Regions from separate parts of the Homo sapiens genome. Here region 1 is linked to region 2. The links come from fine-mapping of genetic effects on gene expression. A gene starts in region 2. The other region holds a variant in brackets. All regions are shown on one strand. Distances are from middle to middle. Region 1 overlaps PLBD2 (phospholipase B domain containing 2). Region 2 holds the start of PLBD2 (phospholipase B domain containing 2).

What was found. PIP is the estimated chance that this variant, and not a neighbour inherited with it, causes the effect.
Region 1: its variant is fine-mapped to the expression of PLBD2 in whole blood (TOPMed, PIP above 0.99). The same link has a PIP of 0.9 or more in aorta and lung.

The regions. Positions count from the first base shown.
Region 1 is chr12:113,384,030-113,395,432 of GRCh38, reverse strand. PLBD2 (phospholipase B domain containing 2) reads right to left here. Exons shown (of 12, transcript NM_173542.4): 7 at 11,168-11,328; 8 at 10,487-10,582; 9 at 10,150-10,221; 10 at 8,344-8,496; 11 at 7,527-7,689; 12 at 3,804-6,974. The coding sequence ends at 6,807. It overlaps SDS (serine dehydratase), which reads left to right. Exons shown (of 8, transcript NM_006843.3): 7 at 1,417-1,541; 8 at 2,284-2,988. The coding sequence ends at 2,492. Among named protein-coding and RNA genes, the nearest start is that of SDS, 14 kb to the left of the region's middle. RefSeq lists an enhancer at 2,020-2,219. The variant G/C (reference allele first, on the strand shown) is at 6,796.
Region 2 is chr12:113,353,068-113,364,470 of GRCh38, reverse strand. PLBD2 (phospholipase B domain containing 2) reads right to left here and starts at 5,884. Exons shown (of 12, transcript NM_173542.4): 1 at 5,581-5,884. The coding sequence starts at 5,870. It overlaps LOC105369989 (a long non-coding RNA gene), which reads left to right and starts at 4,961. Exons shown (of 3, transcript XR_945346.3): 1 at 4,961-5,141; 2 at 10,703-10,796; 3 at 10,976-11,014. RefSeq lists enhancers at 260-760, 4,626-5,125 and silencers at 5,461-5,520, 5,571-6,070.

The DNA of each region.
Region 1 (11,403 bases), 31 kb before region 2:
CTACAGATAGGGAAGACTGAGCCCAGCCAGGTAAGAACTTCTTCCAGATTCCTGAGCCTGGCATCTGGAGCTGCTGTGTCCCACACTGTAGGGACTGAAGACGTCATGGCTGAGCGCCTACTGTAAACCACGTGCTGCTGAGGGCTGAGGTGGCTCAGGCCCTCAAGATGCTCCTGGGGAAGGGAGAGGGGGCAGCTGAGCTGGGAATAGAGCTAGTGGTCACCCCAGGAAGCTGGGGACAGCGTCAACACATTGGTTACCAGTGCAGGTCTTGAAGTTATACAGATCCTGCTTGCAGCCCCAGCTCCAGCACTCCCTAGGTGTGTGACCTTGGGCAAGTGACTGTACACTCTCTGCCTCAGTTTCCCCTTTCCAAAATCAAACCAATTAACAACAGCAGAATTCTTGTGTGAATTCAATAATGCTTGTGAAGTGCTTGGCACCTAACACTTTCTCAAGAAGTACTCAGGGCGCTTGTTACTAGCAGGGAGGACTATTTGAGAATTCCACATAGGGCCGTGGGACTCAGTACTCTCCCAGGAGGACTCCTTGGAGGAGGTGGCCTTAATCCTGAGCCTTGAAGGACACAGCAGGATGTGGGCAGGCAGAGTGGTGCTAAGCTTCATGAGGGTTAACCAGGTAGCGGTTGTAACCCGGAGCAAAAGCAGGGAGTCCTAGCAGGGAACAACAAGGGTCCTCTTAGGCATTTGCTCCTGACTTAGTGTTGATCAGAATATGACGCTGTGCCGAGGCAGGAGGATCACTTGAGCCCAGGAGTTCAAGACCAGCCTGGGGTCGGGCATGGTGGCTCATGCCTGTAATCCCAGCACTTTGGAAGGCCGAGGGGGGTGGATCACCTAAGGTCAGGAATTCGAGGCCAGCCTGGTCAACATAGTGAAACCCCATCTCTACTAAAAATACAAAAATTAGCCGGGTGTGGTGGTGGGCACCTGTAGTCCCAGCTACTCGGTAGGCTGAGGCTGGAGAATTGCTTGAACCCGGGAGGCAGAGATTGCAGTGAGCTGAGATCGCACCACTGCACTCCAGCCTGGGCAACAGAGCAAGACTCCGTCTAAAAAAAAAAAAAAACAAAAAAACAACAAAAAAACAAACAAAACAAAAACCCGCCTGGGCAACATAGTGACACTCAGTCTCAAAAAAATTAAAAAAATGATACTAAAGAATATACTATATGATGTCAATTCAAACACTCTGCACCTTATTAGAAGACCCCACTTGGTTTGGGGATCCCTGAGGCTTTTCAGGGTTTTACAGCTGCAGAGGTGATACCTGTCCCCCTGCCCCCAGATGCATTGCCTTCTCTGTCTCACATCCATCTCCTTCTCTCCCTCCCTGCCCCCATCTCTCTCCTGTTTCCCCCACTCCCATCCTCTTCTGGGTTCCCACTTCTCTCAGTGTTGCCAAGGCCCTGGGCGTGAAGACTGTGGGGGCTCAGGCCCTGAAGCTGTTTCAGGAACACCCCATTTTCTCTGAAGTTATCTCGGACCAGGAGGCTGTGGCCGCCATTGAGAAGTTCGTGGGTATGTGCCAGGTCCTCCCATGACCTGACCTGCTGACTCAGGCGCTAAGTGGCTGTCCACTTGGTATGCCACTGGGGATCCCACTCACCCCAAGTTTCCTTCACAGTTCTGTCTTCCACCTCTGCCTAGAATTTTCCATTAATAGAAGATAATACAATGCCGTGTAGAAATAGAAAAGCAAAAGCCACACATAATGGAAAAGTAAATAGAAAAGTAAGCCTGATAACCATAGCAGCAGAAAACAATAAGTGAATATTTAAAATGTTGCTTCTGAGTTTCCTGGCAGCCAGGGTAAAAAAAGGAAAACATGGGGCTCAGAGTTTGATTCATTCAGAGGTGAGTCTGTAACTAGGCTGGACTCTTTCTGGGTTCCGTCTAGGGCAGGGATGGCAAAAAAGAGAGAAAAAAATAGTACCATTTATGCTTCTGTACCTGCTGCACACTTGGCTAATCAACCATGGAACTCTTGCTCAGATGATGCCTCAGAATCCTTCTCAACACAGTGCTCACGCAACCACACTCATTCTATCAGTGTTAGCACTCATGATGAAACCCAGGCCCTGGCTCAGGCTTGGAAGGGCCAATTCAGGCCGATGACGGGACGTTTGGTTCAGGACCTGCGGCTGCAGCCAGGGCTGAGAGCTGATTGGCTCAGTATTCCCAGGTCCTGCCAATGGCCTGTCAGCTCCTGTGCACCCTGGGAAACTCAGGCCACGCCCCTGTCACGCCCCTTCTCTGGCAGATGATGAGAAGATCCTGGTGGAGCCCGCCTGCGGGGCAGCCCTGGCCGCTGTCTATAGCCACGTGATCCAGAAGCTCCAACTGGAGGGGAATCTCCGAACCCCGCTGCCATCCCTCGTGGTCATCGTCTGCGGGGGCAGCAACATCAGCCTGGCCCAGCTGCGGGCGCTCAAGGAACAGCTGGGCATGACAAATAGGTTGCCCAAGTGAGGACGGACCCCTTACCGATCTGTGCTCTCCTAGCCCAAGAGACCCCTGGAGGGGCTGGAGTTTTATCCAGCGCCTCGTCGTATGTTTGGCTGAGCACCTGTGGCCTGGGTGCAGGTTAACTTCTTGTTATCAGGAGCCCACTATGCAGAGGCCAAAGGTCGGCAGCCAGCGAGGCTATGAATTGGACCTTTTTGGTATCTGTGTGACTGCTCTGTGCCCATCCTTAGCCAACTTGCTGGCGTGACAAGTGCCCACAAGTAACACACCAGGTACCCAGAGCAGGGTGGACAGGAGAGACCTGAATCACAGCAGTGAGGAATTCCTCAAAGCTGTGACCTCGCCCCTGAACTTGTTCCCAGTGAAGGTCAACAGGGCCACCAACCAGGGTTGAGGAACCATCTCAGCCATCCTCCCAGGAAGCCCACCCCTGACCCTTACTAATTTTTCTAATGTGCAAACTTTTTCATTGAAAAATAAAATATATTTATGAAACAAAGATCCTGTGCATTTTCCCATCATCAGCTGTCTCCTTTCCTGCTTTCCTTCCACCCCAAGTCTGCTCTCAGCCCCAGCTCTCAACTGGGGCCCCAGAGTGAGGCCAGGAGCCTGACTCCAGCTAGTCTTGCATGCCAGGACAGGGGCATCCCTGTACCACAGGAAGCAGGTGGCTAAACAAGAGGGACTTGGGGTGGGACAAAGGCTGCCTCCGCTGAAGGCAGAAGCAGCTGGGGAGGCCAACTTCATTCTGATATGAAGTCCTTCCTACTAAGTCAGAATTATTTCATCACAGACCCAATGGAAGCAAAGAAGTGAGGCCCCCTCCCCTGGGCGTGTGTGAGCTGACACTGGACACCCATCTCTGGGAGAGGGAAAGGGTGGGTGGACTTGAAGTCAATGTCATGCAAACCCTCCTCAAACATGGAGCCCTCTCTTCCAACAAAAGCATATGCTGAAGCCCGTATCATAGATCAAAGAGGAATTACTGGGGCTGGCTCCAGAGCATGGAGGGAACCCCACCCTCAGGGTACTTTCTGGATGACCCCAAGTTCAAACTGAAGTTTAAGAGTCACTCAGGGCTGGGCGCAGTGGCTCACGCCTGTGGGAGGATCGCTTGAGCCCAGGAGTTCAAGACCAGGCTGGTTGGCACAGTGAGACTCTGTCTCTACAAAAAGGAAAAATAACTTGAACCCAGGAGGCAGAGGTTGCAGTGAGCCGGGATTGTGCCATTACACTCCAGTCTGGCGACAGAGTGAGACTCCGTCTCAAAAAATAAATAAATAAATAAAAAGGAAAATAAGATAAAACCACAAGTCAATTCCCAACCCCAGACCCCAACCTTGCTTTATTTTCTCCACGGGTTTACCAGCACTGACACACTGCATATTTCATTTATTTTGTTTACTATCTAGTCAATGTAAACTTCACAAGAGCAGGAATGCTTCTGTCCCTTTTGTTATAAAGTATCCCCGGGACCTCATAACAGTGCCTGGCATGTACTAGGGGTTCAATAAGTGTTTGCTAATAAAGAGATGCTGAGTGCATGAGGCCCCAAGTGGGCTGCATCACATCCCCCAGGGAAACGCTGCTCACACCATTACCCCATTTCACAGATGAGGTAATCGAGGCTCAGAGAGGAGTCCATAGCTAGCTAATAAGAGGTGGAGACAGAATTGAAACCCAGGTCTCTGACTCCAGGGCTGTGTGCTTTCCTCTCTCCAAGCACACAGCACTGGGAGAGTCTTGTCTCCAAGGCAGGCTGCATGAGATCAGACAGGGAGAGAGCCTTTTTTTTTGTATCTGTCTGTATACCACAATATGGCTTAGGAAGGTCTTGGTGGTTAACAAGGCTCCCAAATAGGACCCAGAACACAGGTGCTCAATAAACATCTGGATGGATAGATGGATGGATGGATATGAATGAATGGATGGCTGATGGATAGAAAATAGATAAATATGGATGCATGGGTGGATATTAATGAATCTGCACAGACCCGTGTGTGGATGGATGGGTGATAAATGAATAGGTAGGTGGATGGACGGGTGGGTGGGTGGATGGATGAATGGATGGATGAGTGGGTGGATGGATGGGTAGATGGGTGATAAATGGATAGGTGGACGGATGAGTGAATGGGTAGATGGGTAGATGGATGGAAATGAACAGATGGAAATGGTTGGATGGGTGGATAAATGGTTGGAAGGATGGATGGATGGGTGAGTGGGTAGATGGATGATAAATGGATAGGTAGGTGGATGGATGAGTGAATTAGTAGATGGGTAAATGGGTGGAAAATGAACAGATGGAAATAGTTGGATGGGTGGATAAATGGTTGGAAGGTTGGATGGATGGGTGAGTGGGTAGATGGATGATAAATGGATAGGAAGGTGGATGGATGAGTGAATGGGTGGATGGGTAGATGGATGGAAAAACAGATGGAAATGTTTGGATGGGTGGATAAATGGTTGGAAGGATGGATGGATGGATGGGTAAATGGGTGATAAATGGATAGGTAGGTGGATGGAGGAGTGAATGGGTGGACGGGTAGATGGATGGAAAATGAACAGATGAAAATGGTTGGATTGATGGTTGGATGGGTGATTGGATGGATGGATGGGTGGATGGGTGACAAATAGGTAGGTGGATGGGTGGATAGGTGAGTGGGTAGATGATTGGGTGGGTGGATGGATGGATGCGTTGGCAGATGGGTGGATGGATGAATGGATAGGTAGTTGGATGGGTGGGTGGATGAATGGGTGGGTAGATAAATGGGTGGGTGGATGGGTGATAGATAGATAAGAACTTCGTAAGCCATGCTGTGGTATACAGACCAATACAAAAAAGGATCCCTCCCTGTCTGATCTCATAGGTGGATGGATGAGTCAATGGCTGGATGAGTAAATGGGTGGGTGGGTAAGTGGATGGAAAATGGACAAATGAGGCCAGGTGCGGGGGCTCACATCTGTAATCCAAGCACTTTGGGAGGCCAAGACGGGCGGATCACTTGAGGCCAGGAGTTCGAGACCAGCCTGGCCAACATGGTGAAACCCTGTCTCTACTAAAAATACAAAATTAGCCAGGCATGGTGGCTCATGCCTGTAACCCCAGCTACTTGGGAAGCTAAGGCAGGAGAATCGCTTGAACCCAGGAAGCAGAGGTTGCAGTGAGCAGAGATTATGCCATTGCACTCCAGCCTGGGCAATAGAGTGAAACTCCCACTCAGAAAAAACAAAAACAAAAAAAAAAGAAGAAGAAAGAAAATGGACAGATGGAGATGGCTGAATGGTTGGATGGGTGGTTGGATGGGTGAGTGGATGGATGATAAATGGATAGGTAGATGGATGGATGGATGATGGAAGACGGATGGGTGGGTGGAAGGCTGTGCAGATGGATGATGGGTGAGTATGTTGGCAGATGAATGAATGGACAGAAGGACAGACAGAGGGCTGCACAGGAGGCTGCATGGGGGATGGCGCAGAACCCAAACCTGAGAGGAGAAAAAGCGCTGACCCCACCTTCCCTGCCACCCCAAGAAGCACAGCATGGGGCCACAGCCGCTCTTGTTTAATGGTGGCACAGCCTGCGGTCTGGTTCCTCCATCAGGGCGCTGTGGGTATGGCCCTGAGGTGAGGGGCAGGCCTGGGGTGGGGTGGGGTGGGGCCTGAGGCAGAAGCATGGGGGCTGACCCTCTGCCTGACATGGAGAGAGGACATTCAGAACCCTCCAGCCACAGATGGCCAGAAACTTTGGTTTGTGTTTGTTTTCAAGTTTCTGTCCTCAAGGAAGCTGCCCAGAAAGGGAGACGAGGGGACTGCTTCCTGAGGGAGCAGAGGGGCCAGAGCTGGGAGGAGCAATGCCAGCCGAAGACAACGCCCAGACAAAGCTCACCAGCTCCAGGGCCACCCGTGGGAATGCAGCTGGGAGAAGGGTGCTGGAACAGGCTCCTTCCACCCCATGGGAGCCCCAGAGTCTGCCCCAGGACCTTCCCAAACCCTCAGGAAGGAGAAGCACGAGGAAGGGGCCCCAGAGGTGGGAATGAGGTTGAGAGAGCAGCAGTAGGAAACAGACAGAAACAGAGAGTGGGAGATTTAGGGCAGGGCAGAAGAGACGCCACGGTGCCCACCCACCTCGGGGGAGAGAGGGGGTCAGTTCTGAGCCCCATCAGGTTCGTGACCCACTCTAGGAGGAGATGACTCAGACCCCAGATCAGAGAACGAAGCCCCCAGGAGGGGCTGGAGTTAGAAGTCCGGTGGCCTTGGGACGGGGGTGACCCTGACGAGGGTCAGCAGGGGCGAAAGCAGCAGAGCA[G/C]GGACAGAACTTCAGTCCCATGAAACCTTGACAGGCGCGAACTTCCAGAGGTCTGGCTGGCCCATGTGCAGCAGGCCGCTGAAGGGCGAGGTGCTCCACTGGAACGGGGGCACCTGGTCCCACGTGGGACCGCTGGCCGCCAGCAGGCTCAGGATCCTGGCCAGTGACATGCTGGTCACCTGGGGACAGGGCAGAGCCGCAGCTGAGCAGGGGTCCTGGCCTGCCCCAATCCAGGCACCCAGCCTCCCACCCTGACCTTGACCCCAGAGCCCAATTCTGAACTGTCACTTTTTTTTTTTTTGAGTCTCTGCTCTGTCACCCAGGTTGGAGTGCAGTGACGTGATCTTGGCTCACTGCAACCTCTGCCTCCCGGGTTCAAGCAATTCTCATGCCTCAGCCTCCTGAGTAGCTGGGATTACAGACGCCCGCCACCACGCCTAGCTAATTTTTGTATTATTAGTAGAGACGGGTTTTCACCATGTTGGCCAGGCTGGTCTCAAACTCCTGACCTCAAGTGATCTGCCCACCTTGGGCTCCCAAAGTGCTGGGATTACAGGCATGAGCCACCGTGCCCAGCCCATACTGTCACCTTTACTGTGACCCCAACCACAGCCCAATTCCGACTGTGATTCCTGCCCCGCCATCAGCTTTGCCCCAACCTGTCCCTTCCCCAAAGCTGGTGATGGTGACTTCCCCCACCCACAGCTCAGGCCCTAGGGAGGAGGCAGCACCTTCACATCGATACCCCCATGGGAGCGCTGACGCAGGGCCTGGAAGGGGTAGGAGCCATTGGCCGGGTTGAGGTCGGAGCGGGCGGAGATAGCATTCTCCCCATTGGGCTGGGGGTTGCAGGCTTTGCACAGTGACAGAGGGTCATGGAGGAAGTCATTGTACCTGGATGGGGAAAAGGAGGGAACATCAGTCATCCCAGGAAGGAGAGGCTAAGACGGGGGCCAAAATCCTCACAGGCAGCCCCGTTAACAGCTGCCAGCCTTCAACTTGATGAGCCCCTCCCACTGCACACTACCCCCGACAGTTCCTCTGCCTGGGGCCCGGACCCCTTCACCTAAGTCACTCTGCCTTCATTATTCAGCTCTCTGCTCAGGCACTCATCCTCAGGGAAGGCCTCCATGCCACCACCCCAGCCAGGTGAGGCACCCGTTTGTTCCTGGATAGCCTCTCTTGGAACACAGCCATCTTTACACATTGACACCAGTGCAAGAACTTGATGGATTTCTGCACCGCCCAAGAGACAGGACAGTGGGGCACAGGTTTTCTACCTGTTGCTCCTGGTACCAAGCATAGTGCCTAGCAGTACAGGTCACTCAACAGATGTCTAGCATCCTCCCCTTAGCTATGAGGACAGTGACAGGGCCCAAGTGGAGAGCGGCCACCGAGCTGCTGCACTGGTGTCCAACATCTGACCACCCCCTGCTGGCCCTCTGGGGCTGGCAGCAAAGTTTGAATGAGTTGGTACAAAAAGCGCACAGGAAGTTCTGTGTTCCTGCGGCCTCCCTCTCCCCAACCCACCACCCAACTGGCACCTACCTCATCAGCCTGACCATGGAGTCCATGTCTTGTACCAGTGACTGGTTCCGCCGGAAGATCTGGGCCCGGGGGCTCCCGTCATAAGAAAACCAGTCCCCATACTGGGCCACTAGGGCCTGCAGCCCACTGGCATTGAACACAGTCTCGAAGGACCTGCCGGGGACAAGGATGGTCACCCATGACCCCCACTGGCCTCACTCAGCCAAGGCTGTGGCCAGGGAGGGGAGGGGCAGTCACACCAGGACATTATTACTTACAACTACGACATTCAGGCTGGGTGCAGTGGCTCACACCTGTAATCCCAATACTTTGGGAGGCCGAGGCGGGCAGATCACCTGAGCTCAGGAGTTTGAGACTAGCCTGGCCAACATGGTGAAACCCTGTCTCCACTAAAAATACAAAAATTAGCCAGGCACGGTGGTGTGTGCCTGTAATCCCAGCTACTCGGGAGGCTGAGGCATGTACTCACTTGAACCTGGAAGGTGGAGGTTTCAGTGAGCTGAGATCGAGCCATTGCACTCCAACCTGGGCGACACAGCGAGACTCCGTCTCAAAAAAAAAAAAAAAAAATTAGCCGGCGTGGTGGCACGTGCCTGTAATCCCAGCTACTTGGGAGGCTGAGGCACAAGAATCACTTGAACCCGGGAAGCAGAGGTTGCAGCAAGCTGAGATCGCACCATTGCACTCCAGCCTGGGCGACACAGCGAGACTCCGTCTCAAAAAAAAAAAAAAAAATTAGCCGGCGTGGTGGCACGTGCCTGTAATCCCAGCTACTTGGGAGGCTGAGGCACAAGAATCGCTTGAACCCGGGAAGCAGAGGTTGCAGCAAGCTGAGATCGCACCATTGCACTCCAGCCTGGGTGACAGAGCGAGACTCTGTCTCTAAAAACAAACAAACAAACAACAACAACAACAACAAAACCAACTATGACATTCGGGATAACAATAATGTCTTCCATTTGTGCTGGGGGGTGGCTTGGTGGGGTGGCCAAGCTTGGGCTCTGGGGCCCAAAAGGCATGGCATCAAATCCTGCCTTCAGTCCGGGTGTGGTGACTTATGCCTATAATCCCAGCACTTTGGGAAGCCAAGGCAGGCGGATCACTTGAGGTCAGGAGTTTGAGATTAGACTGGCCAACATGGTGAAACCCTGTCTCTACTGAAAATAGAAAAATTAGCCAAGGATGGTGGCTGGCGCCTGTAATCCCAGCTACTCAGGAGGCTGAGGCAGGAGAATCACTTGAGCTCAGGAGGCGGAGGCTGCAGTGAGCTGAGATTGCACCATTGCACTCCAGCCTGGGTGACAGGGCAAGATTCTGTCTCAAAACAAAAAACAAAAAACAAATCCTGCCTTCACCATTCGCCAACAGGGGAAGCTTGGGAAAGTGAGGTACTTTCTCAGGGCCTCAGTTTCATCATCTGTGAGATGGGAACAGGAACTCTAGTGACCACATGTGGCAATTTTAAGAGTCAAATGAGAAAATGCAGGTAAAGTAAGTGAGCCTCAGGAGGTGACAGCTGTACAGCCCAGTAAGGCAGATCCAGTCAGAGACCCTGGCAGGGGCCAGTCCCTGAGCCTGGCCACCCCACACCACCCTGCTCTGGGTGTTAGAACCAGAGGTCACATGGATGCTGACTTAAGCCATGCAACTACACTGCCAAACTGTCTGGGCTCTCCTGGCCAGAAAAGGGGGTAGGCTGGGATTCTTTGTTCTGTGGGTTTAAAAACATTGCCTAGGAAGGAGCTGGGCAAGGAGTGAGGTGGATGCCCTGGAGGGTGACGGGGAGCGGAGTGAGAAGGCACGCACGGTATGTTGTAGCTGGCCCAGTAGGTCTTCTGGTAGAGCTCCGAGGTCTTGTCAGCCACCACCACCATGCCGCTGAGACCGAGAAGAGAGATGGGGTGGAGGTGATCAGAAAAGGGGCTCCTGTGGGCACTGCCCTGCTCGGGGAGCCCCGATGGCTCCCCATTGCCTGGAGGATGGATTAAGTCCTGAACTTCAGCCCCCACCAGGGACACCTTCTCTTCCAGCCACACCCTCCTGAGATCGTTCACTTCCTGCACAGCGCCAGCACGGCTCTGGGCCTTCACCCTGGCAGTCCCCTCTGCCCCGAGCCCCCACCCCTCCCTCCCAGGGTACGCACGGGATCTGCTCCAGGATGGTAAGCACCCGGCTCCCGGGGCTGGGCCCACCCGGGATGAACGCCTTGTAGTCCACGATCATCCACTGGTTGTTATACCTGCCGGGCAGGGGAAGGGAGGACTGAACAGAGCCTGGAGCCACCTCCCCAGCTTTCCCCACCCTGCAGTGTCCCACTCAGCTAGGAATTACAGGAAGTGGGCCTGGGGTTGTCCAGCCATTCAACTGACACCCTGACGCTGCAGCATGACCAGGTATCCACAAACCCCTCTCTCGTCATGCTGCTTGACTGTTCCAGAATATTCTGTGGCTCCCTAGGTCAGCTCCTCTGCCGGATGCTGTAAGATCTGCACTGCCCAGTTCCAGTGTCTCTGGCTCACAGGCCCTGCCACCCACCCACGTCCACCTCCTCAAACAGCCCTCCCCACTGTCCCCTTGAGAGTCTTCAGGTTCCAAGTGCTCTTCCTGTACTGCCACCAAGGCACCCCTTCCTAGGCTGAGGAGCCTGCAGGGGAGGGGCAAATCCTTTCCTTCCCTAGCCTCAGTCTCCCCATGTATGAAACAAAGGAGGGCGTGGGGTGTGTGGCCCGGATGCCACATCTGGTCCCCAGGAGTGTGAGTGTTAAAGGGGAGGTTGGTCTATCTCTTGGTGCAGGGGAAGCCACAGGGCCAGAAGCCCACTCACGTGCCGCTGTTGAACCTCTTGAAGATGTCTGCCCAGGTGGCCCCATCCGAGGCCAGGCGGTTGGCCACGATGTTGCGTACCCACTCCAGCACACAGCCCCTGGGCCGCACATACTTCCACAGGGCTGGGTTCTTGTTGCCAATGGTGGTCTCCAGTGTCACCTGTGGGAAGGTCAAGGGGGCTGCTGCACAGCCTAGGCATGCTGCCACCAAGTGGCAGTACTTCATCAGTCATGG
Region 2 (11,403 bases):
GAATCTGAGGGGGTAGGAGTTTGAGGAGACCCGGCGAGTGTGATGATGGGAGGAAGATTATAACAGGGCCCAATATGCAGATCCCCTCGTGATAAAAGCTGGCAGTGGATCAAAGGAGACCTCGGACAAACTGCGTAAAACCAAAAAAGCTGTGCAGCCGCGAGCCCCAGTAGTAACTGAGCGGCCAGTGGCCTCCTCCAGGGCACACCTGGTGAGAGCTACCCCTTCTAGCAAGGGTGGGCTCAGCCAAGGCCTCGGCACTGAGGCCCCGGAGACGGGCAGTGGTTAGGAACCCATTCCCTGGCCGGATGCTCATACAGCCCTGCAGAGATGGGCATAAAGGCCCTTCTTCACAGCAGGACTTCTCTTCAAAGCCAGAAAAGACGGGCCTTCCCGAAACACCCATCATTAGGGGCCTGATACAATAATCACACATGCCATAGCGGACTGCATGTGCTGATGAGCAAAGAGGTCAGAGATGAAGTTCAAAAAAAAGTCGAGAAGTCCAAATGGTAGGCACGAACTAAGCCCCTGTGTAAATGCATCACACACCACATATGCCTCTACATTTATATGTATGCAAGAAGGTTTAGGCCTCTTTATGCATAGAAAATTCTGGAAGAAAGAGCTAAAAGTCCGGGTGCAGTGGCTCACGCCTGTAATCCCAACACTCTGGGAGGCTGAGGCGGGTGGATCATGAGGTCAGGAGATCGAGACCATCTTGGCTAACATGGTGAAACCCCGTCTCTACTAAAAATACAAAAAATTAGCCGGGCGTGGGGGCGGGCACCTGTAGTCCCAGCTACTCGGGAGGCTGAGGCAGGAGAATGGCGTGAACCCGGGAGGCGGAGCTTGCAGCGACCCGAAATCGCGCCACTGACTCCAGCCTGGGCAACAGGGCGAGACTCCACCTCAAAAAAAAAAAAAAAAAAAGCTAAAAATGTTTATATCTAGGAAGAATGGTAGGGGGAGGCTTTTACTTCCCATATCCCATCCCCTCTTTCTAAACTGCTAGAAATTTGTTTTGTTTTGTTTTGTTTGAGATAGGGTCTCACTCTGTCACCCAGGCTGGAGTGCACTGGCGTGATCACAGCTCAGTGTAGCCTCACCTGGACTCAAGCAGTCCTCCCGTCTCAGCTTCTGAGTAGCTGGAACTACAGGCACGCACCACCGTGCCCAGCTAGTTTTTTATATTTTTTGCAGAGATAGGGTCTCACCATGTTGCCCAGGCTGGTCTCAAACTCCTGGGCTCAAGCAATCCTCCTGCCTCGGCCTCCCAAAGTGCTGGCATTACAGGCACAAGCCACAGCGCCCGGCCAGAAAAACACTTTAGAGTGTGTCTATAACTAGATGTGCTTATTAAAGACTACTCTTCGGCCAGGCACAATAGCTCACACCTGTAATCCCAGCACTTTGGGAGGCTGAGGTGGGCAGATCACCTGACGTCAGGAGTTCAAGACCAGCCTGGCCAACATGGTGAAACCCCATCTCTATTAAAATTACAAAAAAAAAAAAAAAATTAGCTGGGTATAGTGGCTCACACCTGTAATCCCAGCTACTAGGGAGGCTGAGGCAGGAAGATCACTTGAACCCAGGAGGCGGAGGTTGCAATGAGCCAAGATCATGCCACTGCACTCCAGCCTGGGTAACAGAGCAGACTCTATCTCAAAAAAAAAAAATAAATCAAAAGAAGATTACTCCTTATTCAGAGAGTATGTCCTTTCTGCTTGTTTGCTCTAAAATTGCCAATCTTTTATGAGATAAACGCTGACAGGGGTTGACAAATATTGCTCTCCTTTGTTTTTAATGCACTTGCTTGACAAAAATTAAAAGTTGGCAGCAGTAGGTCTGTTTCCTCAATCTTTTTTTTTTTTTCCTGGAAAATCTATGGGCCAAATTGCAATTTCATGCCAGGGGCAGCTAATGTCTCTAAGATGACTCAAGAGTCTAATCAAGGTGCCTCTTGAAAGAGGCCACATTGGAAAAAGTCAGACCACTGATATGAGCAGGGGGCCACAAATATCTCACAAATATCAGCACCCCACTTCCGCAGTCTAGTATGGCCTTGGATGCTCTCCATTATGTGGGATGCCCCCCATAACTGTGTCTATCACTCCTATCTCAGCCTTTTTTTTTTTTTATTTGAGACAGGGTCTCACTCTGTTGCCCAGGCTGGAGTGCAGTGGCACAATCACAGCTGACTGCAGCCTCGACTTCCCAGGCTCAAACGAGTAGCTGGGACCACAGGCATGCGCAACCACACCCAGCTAATTTTTTACTTTTTTTTTGCAGAGACAGGGTTTCACCACATTGCCCAAGCTGGTCTCGAAATCCTGGCCCCTCGCCATCCTCCTGCCTCGGTCTCCCAAAACATTGGGATTACAGGCATGAGCTACAGCGCCTGTCCTCCTTTCTCATTCTTGATGGTATAGATTCATCTCCTGTGATTGTTCAAAGAAACAGCTGGGCCTTATTTATCCATTTTACTGGGCTGTTTTTGCCTGTTGGTTGGTGGATTTGGGATGCTTCCCCGTTTACTAAATTTGTTAATTCCCTCTAACTTTGATTCACTTCCTCTCTCAACGGGATGGTGATTTACTTTAAGCAACCTCGTCGATAAGGTGCTGGTCAGTGGGATCAGATCAGGGAAGGAAGACAAAGTAAGGTTGGAGGATACAGCTTCCCCAGGACCAAGGCCAGAGCTAGACTGAGGCAGGCTCTGCTCCTAGTGACATCTCTGATCTCCAAGCACCAAATCATAAATGTTTCCAGGCTGTGTGGGGGTGTTGGCCCAAAGTCAAGATATGGCACAACTGAAAGAAGGTACCGAGCACAGTGGCTCACATCTGTAATCCCAACATTTGGGGATGCTAAGGTGAGAGGATCACTTGAGCCCAGGAGTTCAAGACCAGCCTGGGCAACATGACAAGACCCCTGTTTCTACAAAAAAAAAGAATTTAAAAATTAGCCAGGCATGGGGGTGCGTATCTATAGTCCCAGCTACTTGGGAGGCCGAGGTCGGAGGATTTCTTGAGCCTGGGAGTTCAAGGCTGCAGTGAGCCATGATCATACCACTGCACTCGAGCCTGGATAACACAGGGAGACCCTGTCTCAAAAAAAAAAAAAAAACAAAAAAAAAAAAACCTTTTTTAAAAAATAAAAAAGACGAAGGATTATGGTGTAGGGAGAATTTATCCTGATAATCCCAGGATCCCCAGTGGCAAAATCTGGGGATTTCACCAGGAAGGAGGAGGATCCTAATTCTGAGTGAACAGAGGCATCAAATCCCTGCCCCCACCCTCCGAAATAAGACACAGAGTCCCCCACAGATCAGAGATTCTGCTGATCAGGAGCCAGGACACCCCCTATGGCTTTCTTTCATCTGACCCTGAGTCCTCAAGCAGCTGTCTCTGAGGACCTCAGTTTCCTGCCTATAAAATGGGGCTCGCTTTATGGTTTTCCCTGCATCAGAGCCTCAAGGGCTGGCAAACTCAAAGGGAAAGGGGCATGTGAGCGTAAGAGGAGGGGATGAGAGAGGGTGCCGAAAACAAGCCAGAAAGTCCAAGATGGGCAGATCACCTGAAGTCAGGAGTTTGAGACCAGCCTGGCCAACATGGTGAAACCCCATCTCTACTAATAATACAAAAATTAGCCGGGCATGGTGGCACACACCTGTAATTCCAGCTACTTGGGAGGCTGAGACACGAGAATCGCTTGAACCCAGGGTGGGGAGGTTGCAGTGAGCCAATATCGTGCCCCTGCACTCCAGCTGGGCAACGGAGTGAAACTGTGTCTCAAAAAATAAAATACAAATAAAAATAAATAAACAGTGCTTTCTGTGACCCCAGTGAATTTCCATGACCCTTTTGGTCCTACCTTGATATGAGGGAACATGCTCAGAGAGGTGAAGGGATTTGCCCAAGGTCACACAGCAGAGGGGCTGAGCCTGGAAGAACTTTCCATCCAGCACAATCAAGGAAGCCTTCTCTCCACTTCCATGTTTACCATAGTCAAGAGCAACACAGCCCAGGAGGGGCCTCCAGAGGCCAAAGCCCCCTCCCCATGCTGGGCCTCGCTCCTGCCCCTCCTCGCCTGAACAGTTCTGTCATGTCCTCTTGATTCTGCTATGCAGGGCCAAAAACATGAGTGAGTCAGCAAAGAACGGGTCACCAGATCCAAGAGTCCCGGCAGCCCCCGAGGCCAGCCACAAAGCTTCAGTTCCCTCCACAGATGCCAGCTCACTCTGTGGCCTCCTCTCTCTGGGAGCCTTCCCAGATTTACCCCAACCAGTGCCCCTGTGTCTGTGCAAATATCTCCCCCAAATCTCACGTCTACTTGATGTACCCCCCAAGTGCCACCAGAATGGGGGTGTCCTCGGCATCCTGTGTCTCCCTAACACCTGCAGAAGCCAATGGATGCCAGTAAAATGGATAGGGGCTAAAGTGGGAGGAGGCCCTTTCTGCTGCAGGGGGCAGTGTGGTCTGAGCACAGACCACATCCTGGGCACATCCTAGTGCTAGGGTTCCCTAGCATCATCTGGACACTAGGATATGACGGATGCACCCCGGGTTCCCTAGGATCCCCCAGCACAGCCTGATCCAGCGTCTGGGCCCTGCTGACAAGGCTTTGAAGCTGATCCTTCCCACTCCCACTGACTCTGATTTCTCTTCTATCGCTGTCTGTGTTTCCCACTGAGTAGAGACAGCTGCTCAGCTGTGTCCCTAAGGCCAACCATCAGGGTAATGAATAAATGAATGGGCACAAGCCCTTGTACAGAACTTGCAGCACATGACCACCCAACTAGAGCACATCCTCAAAATCTGGGCCACAGATGGGGAAACGGGAGCCCAGACAGGCGGAGGAGTTAGGTGAGACTCACACATCAGAATGACAGCCTGGGTTCCAGCAATAAAGATGGTGAGCATGGCTGCCAAACACGGCATCCAGCCAAGGACTTCCCCTTGGACCAGGACACAGAAGACAAGGGAGGAGCAGAGCCCTAGCAGGATACTAAATGGGTCTATGTGACTTTAGGGACCCTCTGCTTTTGGACTAGCCTGGAACCCAGGTTCAGTCCTGCTGACCTGGCACTGGAAGGGAGGCAGGGTGCTGGCACCCACGAGCAAGCCACAGCCAAGCAGGTAAGAATTAGTCTCCTGCTGAGTTCTCATCACCCCTCAGGCCTGGGGACAGGGGGCTGGCCTCCATGGGGTGAGGAGGCAAAGTCTAGGGAAGGGAGCAGGTCCCCGTGAGGATAGAATTTACCCACCAGCCATGGACCTGATCCAGATGCAGGCACTGCGGCCTCGGTGGTAGGGAACTGGCTTCTTGGGGACAGAAGTACTGTCACCACTGGCTGAAGGCAAGGGACTGGCCCCATGAGGTGAGGGATGCCGCAGTAGCCAGCTCCCAAACAGGGTACTTGGCCCGCAGGGCGGTGCTGCAGCCTCGGGAGTAGCTGACCCCCAGAGAAACGGGCGTTCCCACCCGGCAAGAGGCCGGTCCCGGGAACAGGCGAGGTCCGGCGCCCACGCATCCCCCTCCCCCGATGGCCCCGCGTGGGGATAAGCCAACCCTTACCCAGTCTCGCGGATGGCGTTGGTGAGGTTGGCCCAGGCCACGGCGTCAGGGTGGCGTCCGTCCACCATAAGCAGCTGGCCCGCCGAGACGTCCAGGAGCACCGAGCGGCTGCGGGAGGCTGGAGGGACCTGCCCATCGCGCGCCCAGCGGCCCCCCGGCGCTGGGATCGCCCCCGCCAGGCCGCTCAGGAACGGCCCGACCAGCAGGGCCAGCACCAGGGCCAGCGCCAGCGCCCGCGTCAGCGCCCGGGCCAGGTGGCTGCCGGGGTAGCAGTACATCTGGCCCACCATGACCGCACAATGCTGCGCCCCGCAGCCCGGGTCACGTGACTGCGCTCTGCCATGGGCGGGGCCGAGGGCGGGCGGGGCCGGGCTTGGGCTGAGCCTTTCCGGGATGGGAGGGGCTGGCGCGAGGGGAGGCCTACGGGGCGGGACCCACCTTAAAGAGCCCGGCCGCCCCTTCCACCTACGCAAACCCGGTTTAGCACACTTCCCCAAGTTTTTTTTTTTTTTTTTTTTTGAGACAAGACAAAACCTCCATATGTCGCCCAGACTGGAGTGCAGTGACGCGATCTCGGCTCATTGCCACCTCCGCCTCCCGGGTTCAAGCGATTCTCCTGCCTCATCCTCCTGAGTAGGTGGGATTACAGGCGCGCACCACCACGCCCAGCTGATTTATGTAATTTCAGTACAGACGGGGTTTCGCCATGTTGGCCAGGCTGGTCTTGAACTCCTGACCTCAGGTGATCCGCCTGCCTCAGCCTCCCAAAGTGCTGGGATTACAGGGGTGAGCCACCGCGCCCGGCCAGATTTATTTAATGGTATTTGCCATTTATTTAATACAGTTATCTAATGCAGTCTTTATTCCAACTTTTCCCATTGTCCCTCAAATACCCTTTTTACATGTGTGTGGGAAAAAGCTGTCTAACTACTACTCAAAACCTAGATGCCGTCGGGCGCGGTGGCTCACGCCTGTAATCCCAACACTCCAGGAGGCCAGGGCGGGCGAGTTCAGGAGTTCAAGACCAGCCTGGGCAACATGGTGAAACCCCCGTCTCTACTAAAAATACAAAAAAGTAGCCGGACGCAGTGAGGCGCGCCTATAGTCCCAGCTACTCGGGAGACTGAGGTAGGAAAATCACCTGAGCCCGGAAGGTCGAGGCTGCAGAGAGTCGAGATTGCACCACTGCACTCCAGCCTGAGCAACCAGAATGAGACCTTGTCTCAAAAGAAAAAAAAAAAAAAAAAAACCTAGATGCAATAAAAGATTAATGCATTTGACTGTATAAATTTTTTAACTTTTTCATGTCAAAAAACTCAATAAGCAAAGTCAAAAGACATCTGACAGACCAGGAGAAACTATTTGCAACATATATCATATATATACATTACATATATATATGTATATATATCTCAACATATATCATATAATATATCAGGAACTCTTAAAATTTGAGAGGGAAGGCCAGGTGAGTGGTTCATGCCTGTAATCACAGCACTTTGGGTGGCCAAGGTGGGAGGAATGCTTGAGCCCAGGAGTTTGAGACCAGCCTAGGAAACCTGGCAAGACTCTGTCTCTATAAAATATAAAAATTAGCTGAGCTTGGTGGTGCACACCTGTAGTCCTGTTGTGGGAAACTGAGGAACGGAGAGACCAATATGAGAGAACAGGAGGATGTTTATTTCAACGTACGCACTGGCTCAGTGGATTCACATCCAAAAAGCTGAGCCTAGAACAAAGATATTGTGGGGTTTTTATAAGCAAGCTTAGAAAGGTAAAACAAAAGTAGTTAATCATATAGTGCATAACTTGTGGCCTTGCATAGCTGGTGGCCTTGTAGCTGCATCAAAAGTAAAACAAGAACTGGCTAAATAGAGAGGTTTGTAAAACATAGTCATGCTTAAGAGACCAAGGAAAGGAATAGCAATAAAATAATTTGTCTTTCTCTCTTTTTTTTCCTTCAACCTTGCTCTGGAGGCGGGCGGTGGGGTGGAGGGCGGGGTCTGGAGCCCAGTCCTCTGGCCTTGGCTTTTCGGACAGCGTTATCTTATAACTGTCCTTGAAGTGAGCTGCTAAGCAGAGGAAAACTTGTTCTTCTTCTTTTTTAACCCTTGCCTTGCCACATTCTGGGCCTTAGCTCTTACTTCTCTTGGAGTGAATATATGTAGTACTTATTATTATTATTATTTTAATTTCTGCCTCAGTCCCAGCTACTGGGAGGCCGAGGGGGGAGGATTGCTTGAGCCTAGGAAGTCGAGGCTACAGTGAGTTGCACTACAGCCTGGGCAACAGAGCAAGAAGTTGTCAAAAAGGAAAGAGAGAGAGAGAGAGAGAAAGAGAGAGAAAAGGAAGGAAGGAAGGGAGGGAGGGAGGGAAAGGGAAGGAAGGGAAGGAAGAAAGGAAGGAAGGAAGGAAGGAAGGAAGGAAGGAAGGAAGAAAGAAAGAAAGAAAGAAAGAAAGAAAGAAAGAAAGAAAGAAAGAAAAGGTTTGAGAAGGAAAATGTGAAAACCAGACAGAAAACATGGGCAAAAAGCATCAGCAAATAATTCATGAACAAAGATGTAGAAGTGACCATTATATTTATGAAAAATGCTTGCTTCATTCACTATAGGAGAAATGCAAATTAAAGCTACACTGAAAATAAACATTCAGAGAAATATATGGTGAGAGAGCGTATACCCTGAATGGTACATTCAGGGTAACATGAAGCGATGCTCCTAAGTGCCCAACCTCAATCTTCGGGTGAAAACAAACTCTATACTTAACCATTCAAAAAAGAAGAGGCCAGGTGCAGTGGCTCATGTCTGTAATCCCAGCACTTTGGGAAGCCGAGGCAGGCAGATCACGTGAGGTCAGGGGTTCAAGACCAGCCTGACCAACATTGTGAAACCCCATCTCTACTAAAAATACAAAATAATTAGCCGGGTGGTGGCATGTGCCTGTGGTCCCAGCTGCTGGGGAGGCTGAGGCAGGAAATTCGCTTGAACCTGGGAGGTGGAGGTTGCAGTGAACCGAGATCATGCCACTGCATTCCAGCCTGGGCGACAGAGTGAGACTCTGTCCAGAAGAAGGAGAAGGAGAAGAAGTAAGAAATATACAGTGAAAATAGAGTGCATGTAAAGACTGCTGAAATAAGGTCTGTAATTTAGTTTTTTGATTTTTGTTTTCTTGGGTTTGAGACAGGGTCTCACTTTGTCGTCCAGGCTGGGATGCAGTGGTGCAATCATAGCTCACTGTAGCCTCAATCTTTCAGGCTCAAGTGATTCTCTCACCTAAGTCTCCTAGGTAGCTGGGCTACAGGCATGCACCACCACACCTGGTTAATTTTTTTGAGTTTTTGAAGAGATGGAGTCTTACTTTGTTGCTTGACTGGTCTCAAACTCCTGGGCTCAAGCGATCCTCCCACCATGGCCTCCCAAAGTGCTGGGATTTGTAATTTAAAGTACCATATCAGGCCGGGTTCGGGGGCTCATGCCTGTAATCCCTGCACTTTGGGAGGCCATGGTGGGAGGATCGCTTGAGCTCAGGAGTTCAAGAGCAGCCTGAGCAAGATGGTGAAACCCCATCTCTACTAAAAATCCAAAAAAAATTTATCTGGGCATGGTGGCACACGCCTGTAATCTCAGCTACTCGGGAGGCTGAGGCACGAGAATTGCTTGAACCTGGGAGGCGGAGGTTGCAGTGAGCTGAGATTGTATCACTGCACTCCAGCCTAGGTAACAGAGTGAGACCCTGTCTCAAAAAATTTTTAAAAGTTAAAAAAAAAGTTCCATATCAAAGTCAATTTCCTGATTTTGATATTTATACTCTGGTTACATAAGTTGTTATCACTGGGAGAAACTAGATAAAGAGTACATGTTTTCAAAAACAAAAACTTTAGGGCCGGACACAGTGGCTCACGCCTGTAATCCCAGCACTTTGGGAGGCCGAGGCGGGTGGATCATGAGGTCAGGAGTTCAAGACCAGCCTGGCCAAGATGGTGAAACCCCGTCTCTACTAAAAATACAAAAAAAAATTACAGCATGCCTGTAATCCCAGCTACTCGGGAGGCTGAGGTAGGAGAATCGCTTGAACCCCGGGGGCGGAGGTTGCAGTGAGCTGAGATCGCACCACTGCACTCCAGCCTGGGTGACAGAGCAAGACTCCCTCTCAAAAAAAAAAACAAAAAAAAAAACTTTAAATAAACTACACTGAGATATCATTTCTTTCTATGAGATTAAAAAAAAAAAGTTTAGAAGCTTGACAACATACCCTGTTGGTGAGCCTGGAGAAACAGGCACATGCACGTTGCTAGTGGGTATGCAAAAGACAGGAAGAGTAATGTCTAACAAAACACCAAGGGCATCTACCTCTGACCCAGCAATCCCACCTCTAAGTATTTATCCATAAGGTTATTTATTGCAGCATTGTTTGTAATTTTAAACTGTTGGAAACACTTTCAAGCCCATACATAGAAGCTTCATTAAATAAACCACACAACAGCTGGGAAATGGAATACTATGCAGCTATAAAAAAGAATGAGGCCGGGTGCAGTGGCTCACGCCTGTAATCACAGCACTTTGGGAGGCCGAGGCGGGTGGATTACAAGGTCAGGAGTTCAAGATCAGCCTGGCCAATATGAGGAAACCCCATTTCTACTAAAAATACAAAAATTAGCCAGGCATCGTGGCAGGCGCCTGTAGTCCCAGCTACTCGGGAGGCTGAGGCAGGAGGATCACTTGAACCCAGAAGGCGGAAGTTGCAGTGAGCCAAGATCACACCAATGCACTCCAGCCCAGGTGACAGAGTGAGACTCCATCTCAAAAAAAAAAAAAAAAAAAAAAGAGAATGAAGAGGCTGGGCACAGTGGCTCATGCCTGTAATCTCAGCACTTTGGGAGTCTGAGGTGAGAGGATCACTTGAGCCCAGGAGTTCAAGACCAGCCTGGGCAACATAGTGAGACCCTGTCTCTGAAAACAAACAAACAAAAAAATCCATTCAACTCAATAGAATGGAGAAAACCCCTAAAGATGAACACAAAGAGAAACAAATAATCCTGACTGTATTTAAATAAACATAAGCACACTAAAAGGAATGGGGGTCTGGGGAGAAGTAACCCAACTACCTTTTTTTTTTTTTTAAGACTGATCTCGGCTGGGATTACAGGTGTGAGCCACTGCGTCTGGCCCCAAGTAACTTTTTAACACAGTTCTTCAACTGCATACCTTCAATCTAAGGTAGGAAGAGAGGGAGGGAGGGAAGAGTGGAGGGAGGGAGGGAGGAAAGAAGGGAAGGAAGGAGGGAGAGAGGGAGGGAGGGAGGAGTGGAGGGAGGGAGGGAAGAAGAGAAGGAAGGAGGGAGAGAGGGAGGAAGGAAGGACAACTGAATCTTAAATTCTTTTTTTTTTTTTTTTGAGATGGAGTCTCACTCTGTCGCCCAGGCTGAAGTGCAGTGGTGCGATCTCGGCTCACTGCAACCTCCGCCTCCTGAGTTCAAGCAATTCTCCTGCCTCAGCCTCCCAAGTAGCTGGGATTACAGGTGCCCACCACTAATTTTGTATTTTTGGTAGAGATGAGGTTTCATCATGTTAGCCAGGCTGGTCTTGAACTCCTGACCTCAAGTGATCTGCCTGCCTCAGCCTCCCAATGTTCTGGGATATAGGTGTGAGCCACCATGCCCAGCCTGAATCTTAAATTTTATGTCATAGGTTTGTTTTTTTCACAGTAGTATAACAAGTTTGAAACCATTCTCTTGTATTTTAGGATTAAGCAAATTAATAAATATAGTGCTGATTTGGGATCCAGGTGTATCACCATAGGAAAAGAAAAATACAAACATGGAAAG